Homo sapiens: one gene and its partners. The protein of the gene in region 4 purifies or fractionates together with the protein of the main gene of each other region. This does not show direct contact. Each region holds a gene or a part of one and is shown on either strand. Other genes may lie near its edges.

Region 1 (3,251 bases), on a different chromosome or scaffold from region 4:
TGGCCAACATGGCGAGACCCCATCTCTACTAAAAATACAAAAATTAGCTGAGCATGTTGACACACGCCCGTAATCCCAGCTACTCAGGAGGCTGAGGTGGGAGAATCGCTTGAACCCAGGAGGTGCAGGTTGCAGTGAGCCGAGATTGCGCCACTGCACTCTAGCCTAAGCAATGGAGCAAGACCCTATCTCAAAAAAAAAAAAAGAAAAAGAAAAAGAAAAGAAGTAGAAGCTCATGGCCAGGGATGGTGGCTCACACCTGTAATCCCAGCACTTTGGGAGGCCGAGGCAGGTGGATCACTTGAGCCGAGTTCCAGACCAGCCTAGGCAACATGGTGAAACCTCGTCTCTATAAAAAAAAGAATACAAAAATTAGTTGGGCATGGTAGTGAGCGCCTGTGAGGCTGCTTGTGAGGCTGAGGTGGGAGGATCCCTTTAGTCCAGGAGTTCAAGGCTGCAGTGAGCTGTATAATGCCACTGCAGTCCAGCCTGGGTGACAGTGAGACCCTGTCTCCAAAACAAAATTTTTTTAAAAAGTAGAAGCTTGAGGTTAAGATGAAATCTGGCTTTGTCATTAGAGTCTCAGCAGAGCAAGAAAAGCAGAGATGTGGGGTGTGAGAGCGTGGGTGCTGGAGCCTGTCTCCTCTTCGCAGGCCTCTGGCCTGCCCCAGCCTCCCGCTACCTGCCCAAACCCCATCTGAATGATTTGTGGACAAGCAAGAAGTTTCCACCGCATTTCTCCTTGACTTTACTAAAAGTTAAATAAACGTGCCACTCGCCCCGGCTGGCTACAAGCTGCAGGGGGTGCCGGGTCACCCCAGGCCTTTTCCTGAATCCCAGGGTAGACGCGGTACACTGAAGGCCAGGTTCTCAGCAGCAGGCCCAGGGATGTGGGACCATGCTTGTCCTGGGTTCACAGGCTCCTTTGTCCCTCCTGGCAGTGCTCAGGACCTCAGACTCCTCAGGGTGGCTGCGAACTGCCCTCAGCCAGCCAGGCCCCCAGGCTTCTGAGTGTTAGTCCTGTCCACACAGGTAGCTCCTGTGCCCTGGGGTCACCTCTTTCTTCTCCTGGGCACCTCAGCTTGGCCAGTTCCCCGGCCCTGCTCAGCTGCTCGGGCCTTGCTGCCTTGTGAGCTCAGCTACTCCTGCCCCAAACAAGGGCAGGGTCTGCAGGGCGCTCGAGACAGAGGAGCTGCCCCACCAGGACCTGGACTTGGCACGGGTTGCGAGGCTCCCACAGGAGTAAGGACGACTTCCCAGCCCCGAAGTAGCCTTCCCAGTAGAGGCAGGAGGCCAGGCTGGCCTCAGAGGCATGATGCTCTTGGGAACAAATACAGGAAAGCTGGAGGTCATGGGGCCTGGGAGAGGGAATCGCTGGGGATGGGAAGCCAGGAGAGCCCTGCCTGCCTTCCCTGTTAGCTTCGGCCTCCCTGGGCTCAGGCGTTAGAGCCCCAGGCTCTGGCACAGAGTAGCCACCCAGGAAATGCCTGTGTGAGTAGGTGATGGGGTCAGTACAAATGGCATGTGGGTCACTAGCTGGAAGGAGTTGGGGCAGGAAGGAGTGGCCCGGTGGGTACATTGGTGACAGAACAAGGCCACGCTGATCCAGGGCCTCTCAGAGCTCAGCAGGTCACAGCTACACAGGCCTGTGTCCTGAGAAGTGTGGCTGCCAGAGTGGTGTAGCGGTCCCAGGGCTCTCCATAGGCCCAGGCTGGGGGTGCCCAAGTCATAGGCCGCCCCCTTCAGTTCCAAGTAAGAAGACTGTATCCCACGAAGCAGCGACAGTCCCTCCTACATCTGCCATGAACAGGCTTTGCTCCTAGCTCTCCACGACCCCCTCCTGTGCACCCCGAGCAGCCTCCACGGGTTGGGGCGCCTCAGAGCCCTCCCTTTCTGATGCATCAGAGCAGAGTGGGGAGCGAGGCACAGCTGTCCAGGAAGGGCCACGGTTGCTCGGCAGGCTCAGGTCCTCCAGGCAGGGCTGGCTGCTGCCCTCATCACCCCCCAAGCAGGCAGTACAGGCCCCAGGGCCCAGGTGCCGTGGTTACTGGGAGGAAGAGGCCATCTGGGTGGAGATGAAGGTCTCGATGACGCTGTGGTTGGATGGCAGCAGGTGGCTCTGGCCATTGCTGGAGTCTGAGCTCTGGTACAGCACCAGGCTGCTGGAGGACACTGCAGAGGCAAACAAGGCTGCTAGCCACCCACCAGGCACCCACACCCACCCCACCTGCCTGTCCCTAGGGGTACTCAGGATGGGGAGGCAGGGCCACACCTCCTGGATCACAGCAGATAACAGGAACCCCAAAGTCACACCTCTACCCTCGGTTCTTCAAAGGGAGCCTCCCAGCCAGGGTCCACGGCCGCCCATGGAGTGGCCTGAGTACATCTTAGTGTGAACACTGGAGAAGCCCCGGTGAGATGCCGAGGTAGGTAGTTGTACGTGTTGGCTTGGCTAGGCTGAGTCAAACACTAATCTAGGCGCTGCTGTGAATGCAGGTGCTTTGTAGATGTGGTTAATGCCACAATCAGTTGGCTTTGAGTGAAGGAGATTACCCTGAAAATATGGGTGGGCCTCCTACATCAGTGGAAGGCCGTAAGAGCAAAAACCGGTTTCCCAGAGAAGGAATTCTGCCTCAAGGCTGCAGAATTCACTCCCCAGAGCTGCCAGCAACAGATTTCAGGCCTGCCAGCCCCCCGCAGACACGGGCCAAGTCCTTCAAATAAATCTGTTGGTTCTGTGTTCCTGGAGAACCCTGACTGATGGCAATGGTTAAGAGAATGGGCTTTGAGGTGGGACCTGGGTTCGAGTCCTGGCCCTGCCATCTGGTAGCTGTGGGAGATGAGGCAAGTCCCTCCCCTCCTTGAGTGTCCACTTTCTCATCTGTAAAATGGGGGTGGTCATGGACACGCCTCATGGGGTGAATGCCAGGACACAGAATGGCCTCAGTGGCTGTCATGACAGCTGCCAGGGCCGGGTCCAGGAACCTTATAGAAAGGGGGCAGCTTGCAAAAAGGCAGGCTGCAAAGCCCACCCACCTGACTCCAAAGTGCCCACTCCTGACAATGGCATCATAGATTACAAACTCAGGTGACCGCCCCACCGCCAGGGGTCATTGGAGCCGATGTGAGTGGATGCAGTGAGGCCTGGTGCACTGTTATATGGGAATATGAATTTTTCCAATTTTCCAAAAGATGCCAGAAATCTGGATTTCTATGTGAAAATTCCTGATTTTGAAATGTTGGCAACAAAT
Region 2 (2,985 bases), on a different chromosome or scaffold from region 4:
ACTTTCTGATGGTCCCCACAACTTCATGATGGTCTCCTCACTTACTAAGGCTGCCTGTCACTGCAGTCTTGATCAGCTTGTCAATTTGATACTTCAGCTTTTGGTCCAAGGGACGAAGCTTTTCCAAAACCTACAACATGGTAGTTAATCAGGATTATATTTCCTTCCCAAAATGAAGCACACACCAGAGTCCCTATATTAAGGTGCCACATAAGGCACCTAAAATATGTACAAAGTAGAGCAAATGAATAGAAAAATACCTTTTCTCATTTGGTTTCCTTAAACATGAGAAGACTCACTTAAATGAGAGCTACTGTGTGATACCCTTGGAGCTCAAAATTTAGAAACCTAAAACTCCAAGAAGCCAAATGCTTCATACCGTGCGAATCTCCACCAGTCTCAAAACTGCATCATGTCCCTGAAGAGATCCTCCTGAGGCTTTGTCCAGAATGAGGTGGGTCAAATCCATAAGGTACATGAGCAGCAGCTGGTCTTTCACTTCCAAGAAGCTGAGACCCTGAGTTGAACAAAACAGAAAGAAAAACAGATTTGGTTTTAGCCAAAGAACCAGATGAAAGCCTAGGGTAAACGGGATGTTTTTCCAAGTTCAAGATTTTCCCAATCAGTTCATATTAGGTATCTGGAATAGTCTCAAGAAGTAGCTATGCCTAAGAAGGCCAATGAGAAAGTTATGCTAATACAAGAGAAACAACGCTCAGAAAATTAATAGAAGACAATGAGAAGAGGAAAATCAATAAACTACCCCCCCAAAAAAGACTATAACAGGGTTTCTCAATCTCAGAGCTATTGACATTTGAAGCCAGAACATTTTTTGTTGAGGGCTGTCCTGGGCATTGTAGGTTTCCAGCAGCATCCTTGGCCTCTTCCCACGGATGGCCCCTCCAAGCTCTAACAATCAAAAATGTCTCCACAGACTGCCAAGTTTTAAATTAATTTAATCAAAGTAATTACCAATTTCCCCCCATACAATGGAATTATATGATACAGGTAAAAACAATGATTTATATATAATGACATCGAATTAAATCCATGTCACCACAAGTTGTAGAAAGTGTAATATGACTTCAATTGTGAAAGTGTGTGTGTGTAGGGGGGGATATGATGAATACATTTTATACACATAGAAAAATGTCTACAAGACAACACACAAGTAACTGCTACCCCTAGGGTGAGATGAGGAAAAGGAAGAAATGGTGTACTTTAGAGTGTGAAAAAGTGTTGCATATATTATTCTTATAATTTTAAAAATCTCAAAAATATTACCACAGTGGTTATCTCAGAGTGGTGATTATACTGATTTTTCATTTTTTTCTTTGGGCTTTTATGTATCTTCCAAACTTCACAGCCCTGAGAAAACCTATTTCAGAGAGGTTAAATACTTGGCCAAGATAACACAGTAATACAAGTAGAGCTAAGATTCAAACTCAATCTGACTCCAACACCTCATCCCTGGATGTCTTTAAGCCAACATGCTAAGCTCTTGAGATCAACACTACTGTGGTATAGAAGGAGAGCAAAGGATTTAGAGTCCACAAACTGAGTTTAAGTTCTGAATTAGGTGTTTGGTAGTCAAATATTGAGTAAGTCACTTAACCTTGTGACCTCAGTCTTTTTTTTTTTTTTTTTTTTGAGATGGAGTCTCACTCTGTCGCCCAGGCTGGAGTGCAGTGGCACTGTCTCGGCTCACTGCAACCTCCACCTCCTGGGTTCAAGTGATTCTTCTGCCTCAGCATCCCAAGTAGCTGGGACTACAGGTGCCTCCCACCACGCCCGGCTAATTTTTTGTATTTAAGCCAAATATTCTATGGGTAAATACAAGTATGAAAATCATTGTTAATAAGAGTCACTGAAGGAGTTTTAAGCACAGGAGTTATAGCAGATTTGTGCTTACAGAAAGATAACTAAAAACAGCATTCAAAATATATTCCCTTCTTGTCTTTATCATTCACTTATGTTCTTACTGTCCATTTTTATTTAAAAAAAATTTAAATCTTTGTTTAAGATTTAAGAGACGGGGTTTCGCCATGTTGGCCAGGCTGGTCTCGAACTCCTGACCTCGTGATCCACCTGCCTCAGCCTCCCAAAGCACTGGGATTACAGCCGTGACCCACTGCACCAGGCCAACCTCAGTCTTATCAGTAAAATATGTACATTTCCTCCCTGCCACAAAGAATAATTATGAGGCCCAAATAAGATAATGTGAAAGAACTTTGTAACCTATAAAGCACCTAGTAAAAGTCTTTGGTCAAAAAGATAAGTTAATATGTATTTGTTCAATAAATAAACAAATATATAGGGATCTAAGAAGGATGCTGGCAACTCATCCATCTCCAAAAGGCACTGAAATGGTTCAAGGCATGGTACCCAAGGCCTGGTGTGGTGGCTCACACCTGTAATCCCAGCACTTTGGGATGCCGAGGTGGGTGGATCACCTGAGGTCAGGAGTTCGAGACCAGCCTGGCTAACATGGTAAAACCTCGTCTTTACTAAAAATACAAAATTAGCCAGGAGTGGTGGCGGGCGCCTGTAATCCCAGCTACTCGGAAGGCTGAGGCAGGAGAATCACTTGAACCCAGGAGGCAGAGGCCGCAGTGAGCCAGGATCGTGCCACTGCACTCCAGCCGGGGCGACAGAGGGAGACTCCATCTCAACGAAACAAAACAAAACAAAAAAGCATGGTACCCAGGACAAAAACAGGTAAGAATTTGAGAAGCAGGCTCTTCCGACGTGCTTGGGCATTGTCAAATTCAAACTGAGCTACAAGCATATGAGAGAAAAACAAAGATTTAAATTTTTTTTAAATAAAAATGGACAATAAGAACATAAGTGAATGATAAAGACAAGAAGGGAATATATTTTGAATGCTGTTTTTAGTTATCTTTCTGTAAGCACAAATCTGCTGTAACTCCTGTGCTTAAAACTCCTTCAGTGACTCTTATTACAATGATTTTCATACTTGTATTT
Region 3 (2,331 bases), on a different chromosome or scaffold from region 4:
GCAGAATACAACTGAGGACTGCTGCCCACAGCCACTGCACCCCTGACACCCAGAGCCACCACCCGCCCACCTCCCTCCCATAGGGCTGGGACAGAACACCAACTCATCCAGTGGTCTAATGGCTGTGGACCCCAGGGGAAACCACAGGTGCCCAGTGCAGCCAGGGCTGGTGGGGAACAGAAGGCCTGCGCCCAGGCCCCACCCGGACCACTGCTGACACCATCGCTTTGGGAAGAGCTACCTCGGAGCAACTCCTGCTCCAGCCTGTCTGCCGCCTTTTCCTCCTTTTTCCGTCGGACTTTATCTAGTCGCCGCTTCTGGAACCTGGGGAAGAAAGCACATGTCACTCAGATTCCTAAATTCTCTTTCCACCCAGGGAGGAGGCAGAGGCCGCCCCACCCACAAGGGATCCCCTGTGGCAGAGCAGGGACCCAAGAACAGGTGGCTGCCTCCAAGTCCCCGCTCCCCTTACCACCCCAAAACCCACAGCTGCCCACCAAAGAAGGCTCTGACCCCAACAGGCCCCTCACAGGTCCCCCAGTGGTTCTCAGCTGGGGACAGCTACCTGCCAGGGAACATCTGACAATGTGTGCAGACACGTGGGCAAGGGCTACTGGCACCTTGTGCACGAAGGCTGGGAAGGCTGCCAAAGACCACCCAACAGAGACTCATCCAGCCCATCCGGTGCTGCTGTGTCTAAAGGGCCTAACAAGCATTGTATATCACGTCTCCCTCAATGTGAATCTGGAAGCTTCACCTTCAGCGACAGCTCTGGAGATCACCGTGGCGCCAGGCTGTATCTGGGCCACGTTCTCTGTGATGAACTTTCACTGGCTAAGGTAACTATAAGTAATACAACAATCCAGAAACAGGGAATCTACAGAGCTGAAAGCAACCTCTCAAACCTTCAAAGCTTTTTTTTTTTTTTCTTTTTTTTGAGATGGAGTCTCGCTCTGTCACCAGGCTGGAGTGCAGCGGCACGATCTCAGCTCACTGCAACCTCTGCCTCCCGGATTCAAGCGATTCCACTGCCTCAGGCTCCCAAGTATCTGGAATTACAGGCATGCACCACCACGCCCGGCTAATTTTTTTTTTTGTATTTTATTAGAGACAAGGTTTCACCGTGTTGGCTAGGATGGTCTCGATCTCCTGACCTCGTGATCCACCTGCCTCAGCCTCCCAAAGTGCTGGGATTACAGGCGTGAGCCACTGTACTCGGCCAAAGCTTTTAGAGAATTAGGAAGGTGTAGTCTCTTGGACGAGAGACATTCTGTTCTAATGGAAACAGAACCCCTGGGCACGTCACCCTCAGACCGACCCCCTCAGGGCTGATTCCCACAGGGCTAGGGCTTTCTGGTGCTTTTCCTGTGAAAGCAAGGACCAAGCGAGGTCTCCGCAGAGTTCCCAGGTTCCGCAGCCTCCTGGAGGCCACACCCTCACTGGCTCCCAGCTGGATGCTCCGACTCGCCAACTCCCAGGGCTCTGGCTTGGTCTCCCTGAATCCAGGCTGCCCCATGGCTATGAAACAGGGTACCTGCAGAGGGCCGTCATGGGAACCCAATGTCTTCCCTCCGGCTCCCAGGGCAGACCCCTCCCCCTCCCGCCTCCACTCACGCTTTTTTTGCTTTTTTCTGCTCAGACTTCTCCTTGGGAGCTGCCTGCACCTCTGGCTGCCGGATGGCCTGGTTCTTGCTGAGGAACAGCACATGCTGGGCCTCTTGCTGCATGCGGTGGATATAGGCCCCGTCAGACTCCCCCTTCCTCTGTTTGAACTTGGGGACTGCGATGTCGGGCTCCTCTCCCTTTGCTTCCTTCTCCAATGTCTTTCTGAAGGTCACCTGGGCTGAGGACAAAGGGAGGCCTCAGAGGAGGCAGGAGGCAGACAGTGGCAGGCAGGTGACCCATGCTCATTTCCCCTCCCAAAGCCACAGGAAGGGAAGACCAGGCTGGCTGGAAGCACCCCAACGACAGCAGCTGAAGAGGATGTAGAATGCCCGGCCCGGCATCCCCGGGGACGTGACCCCCCAGCCCAATGGCACCTGTCACAGATGTCCACTGCAGCACAGCTGAAAAAGGAAAGCAGAAACAACCTAATGTCCACCCCTAGGTGGCTGGTTGAATGAATTCTCCTCTGATCACCCACAGACTCCATTGCACAGCTGCCGAAAGAAGCCCAGTGGAGCTACACAGAGAAACGTGGGCAGACCTGCCGGGCGCGGTGGCTCATGCCTGTAATCCCAGCACTTTGGGAGGCCAAGATGGGCAGATCACAAGGTCAGGAGATTCAGACCATCCTGGCTAACACGGTGAAACCCTGTCTCTACTAAAAAC
Region 4 (3,500 bases):
GCACTTCTGGAAGGGCATTCTGGGTGGGGGGCACGGGAGGCAGAAGGCAGAAGAGATGGTGAGCAGGTGCATCGGAGAGCATCTGGAGATCATTGGGAGAGTTCTGTGGAAGCCAAACACGGGTCAGTGAGAAGCACTCTTCCTCTTGCCCTTTACGCAAAAGGTTCGATTCAGAACCACAGGATGACTGCAGTATGGCCTTCTCCAAAGCCAAGTGAGGAGCAGAAGTCCAGCAAAGCACCTTTCTAGTATTTTGGCAAGCCTGAGACTCTTCATAACAGGTTAAGTGGAACTTAGCCTCAAATGCCTACTGTCCTCTCACCCCGAGCACTGAGGCTGGACAGAAGAAGAGAATTTATTTAGCACTACTTATTTCACAGCTAGGAAGTGAACTTTTTACAGATAAGAGGCTGCTATTTCAGGAAAAACTGTCACCACTTCTAACACCAACTCTTCAAGCCTTCCATTAAAAGCTGTTCATAAAAATACTATCTAGACATTCAAAAAGTATCCTTTTTAACCAACCCTTTTGTTTTTAAGAGTCTCAGATATTCTAAACCCTCAAATTCACTGTTCCATAAAAGTAGCCCAGAGCTATAAAGCTGGTCTCAGGTCAAACTGCACCACCGGGCCACAACTGCAATGTCACCTCATCCTATCAGTTTAGTAGGCAGGCAAGAAATGAAAGCACTCCTTTAAAAATGGACACAGCTTTCCACCCTGTCCCGTTACTGCATGGAGCTACATGCTCTATACCTACACACAGCAAGATCAGTGGAACTCATCAATGTCCCAATGGAACAGTCACCTAAGCCATTGGGTAATAAAATATGCAAATCAAGTAAAAGGGGACTGCCAAATGCTGAAGCTCCCTGCTACCATTCACACAAGGGCTAGCTGCAGTTACCTTGTAGTGAGAAGCCACGTAGAGGGCCATAAGCCGTTGGAGGAAAACTTCAGAGGCCTTGTGGTAGCAAAAGAGGGTATCTCTATTAACATAGTACCTGGGTCTGGAGTTAAGAAACCAAAACAAAACAAATAGCCGAAGACAGGTCATACTACTCTCTGGAGGCAGAACAAATTTCCGTAGCTGGGAACAGGAGCTCAGTGTCCTAAGCAGAAACACATAAAAGAAGGAAGAAGAGGGCCAGGCGCGTTGGCTCACACCGGTAATCCCAGCACTTTGGGAGGCTGAGGCAGGCAGATCACAAGGTCAGGAGTTTGAGACCAGCCTGACCAACATGGTGAAACCCTGTCTCTACTAAAAATACAAAAATTAGCCAGACGTGGTGGCTGGCACCTGTAATCCCAGCTACTCAAGAGGCTGAGGCAGGAGAATCACTTGAACCCGGGAGGCAGAGGTTGCAGTGAGCTGAGATTGTGCCACTGCACTCTAGCCTGGTGACAGAGCGAGACTCCATCTCAAAAAAAAAAAAAAGAAAGAAAAAAAAAAAAGGAAGAGAAAAAGGAAATTGAAAATGTTCAACTTTCCCCTTTCTCTAGAGCAGCATCCTATGAAACAAAGGACTCAAGTCCTTTGAATTCTTTCACCGCCCCTCTCCTTTTCACAGGGCCAGTGAAACCCAGAGGAGGATACAGTTCACAAGCTTCAGGCAAGGGGCAGCCTGAGACTATCCGAGTGATGTTGAGGCAATCCAGGCACAGCAAGTCATTCAGCCACTTCTCCACTGCATCCCCAGGGGCGTATCGGATTGACTCCTGGAGGGAAACCTCATACAGTGTCCGCGCTGCTCCCCACAATCACACACACAAAAGAAGAAACAATGATTAAATATGTATTGTCTAAAAAAGCAAGGAAAAATGTTTCACTTTATATTTGTCCCATGGTGGCCAGAGACGTGTGGTAAGAATTTAAACTGGGTGGTTTAAAATTGTTTTTGGTGGATATTCAACTTGCCACGATACCAACCCCAAAGGGATCTCAATGCAACCATGCCCTGAGACAAGGACACACAAGGGCCCCACCATCAGAAGGCCCTAGTCTGGCTCCCATCTGGTCACTGGACTGCTGTTCCTCCGAAAAAAGCTACTTCTCCTCTTGGGGACTCAACCTCTCAGCCTGATGGTGGGAAGGTTTGGTGCTTCCCATGATGTCACAGGGGAAGCGAGGATCAGTAAGACTGAAGGGCCTTGCTGTGAACCGCGGGACCCGGGTCAGGTTCTGGGGTACCTGATGCCAATCTGGCTGTCGTCGTGGTCTTATTCTCAGCAGTGGTGCTGACCTGGCTCTGGGCGCTCTGTTGACGGAGCTGCTGAATTAGCTTGAGGGACAGTGACCGGCCAGTGCCCTCATAGCTAGAAACAAAGGCAAAAGGAATCAGGCACAAGGTCCCAAATCCACTGTCTAGGAGGGGACAGAGAGCTGCTTTCCTCCACCTGCTGAAACACCAGACCCCTGCTTCCCCCAGGACAGCCTTGCTCATCTCTGAACTTCCAGCATAGCAGGCACCTGTCCAAAGGAGGCAGGGTGGCACGGTGGCTGAGCTTGGGGCCACCCAGGCCTGGGCTCACGTCCTGGCTCATCTACTTAGTATCTTTGGGCAAGGAGCTGAATCTCTTTTCGCCTCATCTTCAAGAGGGGATTATTCTATACACCTCACAGGACTGTGATGTGAACTTAAAAAATAAGGACTGGAAAAAGGATGTAAGTAAAGCCTTTAGCATAAAGGCTTTAGGCAGTTTTAGTGAAGCTGGAACAAAGTTAAATGGTCAACTAACGGAGCTGCTTTTAGAAGTACGGTGCATAAGGAAATGAACTGAGAACATTTCCAGTTTGGAAAATAAAACAAATCCACCACCTCAGTAATTCTTTTCATTGCTATGCCCACTTATAAGGTGACATAAAATAGCTAAAAAATGTTGAGAAAAAAATTAAATCACCTATAATCTGATAACTCAATCAGCTTTCATTGTTGAGTTTTCTTCTCCTTGTCTTTAGTCACAGGCATATGTCACCACAGGGTACACACAGCACTTTTCATTACATCATTTCATAGTACTCATTATTATATTCAAAGACTGTAAAATACTTCCTCTTACTCAAATAATGATAAAAGCTAGATGTTTTATGCCCACTCTCCACACCACATAACAAAGCTCTCCCAAAAGTATCCTATTTATTTATTTAAGAAAAAAGAGTAAGCACAAGCAACAAAACTTCAAAACTTTTGTCGTTAAAAGACATTATTATAAAGAAAGTGGCCGGGCATGGTGGCTCATACCTATAATCCCAGCACTTTGGGAGGCCGAGGCGGGTAGATCACCTGAGGTCAGGAGTTTGAGACCAGCCTGACAAACATGGTGAAACCCCGTCTCCACTAAAAATACAAAAGTTAGCCAGGCATGGTGGTACACACCTGTAATCCCAGCTACTCAAGAGGCTGAGGCAGGAGAAATGGGTTGAACCTGGGAGGTGAAGGTTGCAGTGAGCCAAGATTACACCACTGCACTCCAGCCTTGGCGACAGAGTCAGAGTCTGT

Evidence for each region. Proteins that work in one complex are often made in the same cells at the same time.
Region 1: the proteins of NAT10 (region 4) and C12orf43 purify together in Homo sapiens (co-immunoprecipitation; 2 studies listed by BioGRID and IntAct, with this or other methods). This does not show direct contact.
Region 2: the proteins of NAT10 (region 4) and NGDN purify together in Homo sapiens (co-immunoprecipitation; 2 studies listed by BioGRID and IntAct, with this or other methods). This does not show direct contact.
Region 3: the proteins of NAT10 (region 4) and CCDC137 purify together in Homo sapiens (affinity purification with mass spectrometry; one large-scale study listed by BioGRID and IntAct). This does not show direct contact.

Annotation. Positions count from the first base shown.
Region 1 is NC_000012.12:120,999,986-121,003,236, reverse strand, and holds the end of C12orf43 (protein CUSTOS), read left to right. Parts: 3' UTR 1-2,044; coding exon of another isoform or gene 2,045-2,172; 3' UTR 2,173-2,751; downstream 2,752-3,251. Other genes in the region: HNF1A (hepatocyte nuclear factor 1-alpha), read right to left, coding at 2,045-2,172. UniProt on the Homo sapiens protein: Plays a role in the regulation of Wnt signaling pathway during early development.
Region 2 is NC_000014.9:23,472,703-23,475,687, reverse strand, and holds part of NGDN (neuroguidin), read right to left. Parts: intron 518-2,985; coding exon 380-517; intron 131-379; coding exon 46-130; intron 1-45. UniProt on the Homo sapiens protein: Part of the small subunit (SSU) processome, first precursor of the small eukaryotic ribosomal subunit.
Region 3 is NC_000017.11:81,669,737-81,672,067, reverse strand, and holds part of CCDC137 (coiled-coil domain-containing protein 137), read right to left. Parts: intron 1,844-2,331; coding exon 1,615-1,843; intron 325-1,614; coding exon 242-324; intron 1-241.
Region 4 is NC_000011.10:34,129,629-34,133,128, reverse strand, and holds part of NAT10 (RNA cytidine acetyltransferase), read right to left. Parts: intron 2,317-3,500; coding exon 2,192-2,316; intron 1,749-2,191; coding exon 1,598-1,748; intron 1,005-1,597; coding exon 908-1,004; intron 104-907; coding exon 1-103. UniProt on the Homo sapiens protein: RNA cytidine acetyltransferase that catalyzes the formation of N(4)-acetylcytidine (ac4C) modification on mRNAs, 18S rRNA and tRNAs.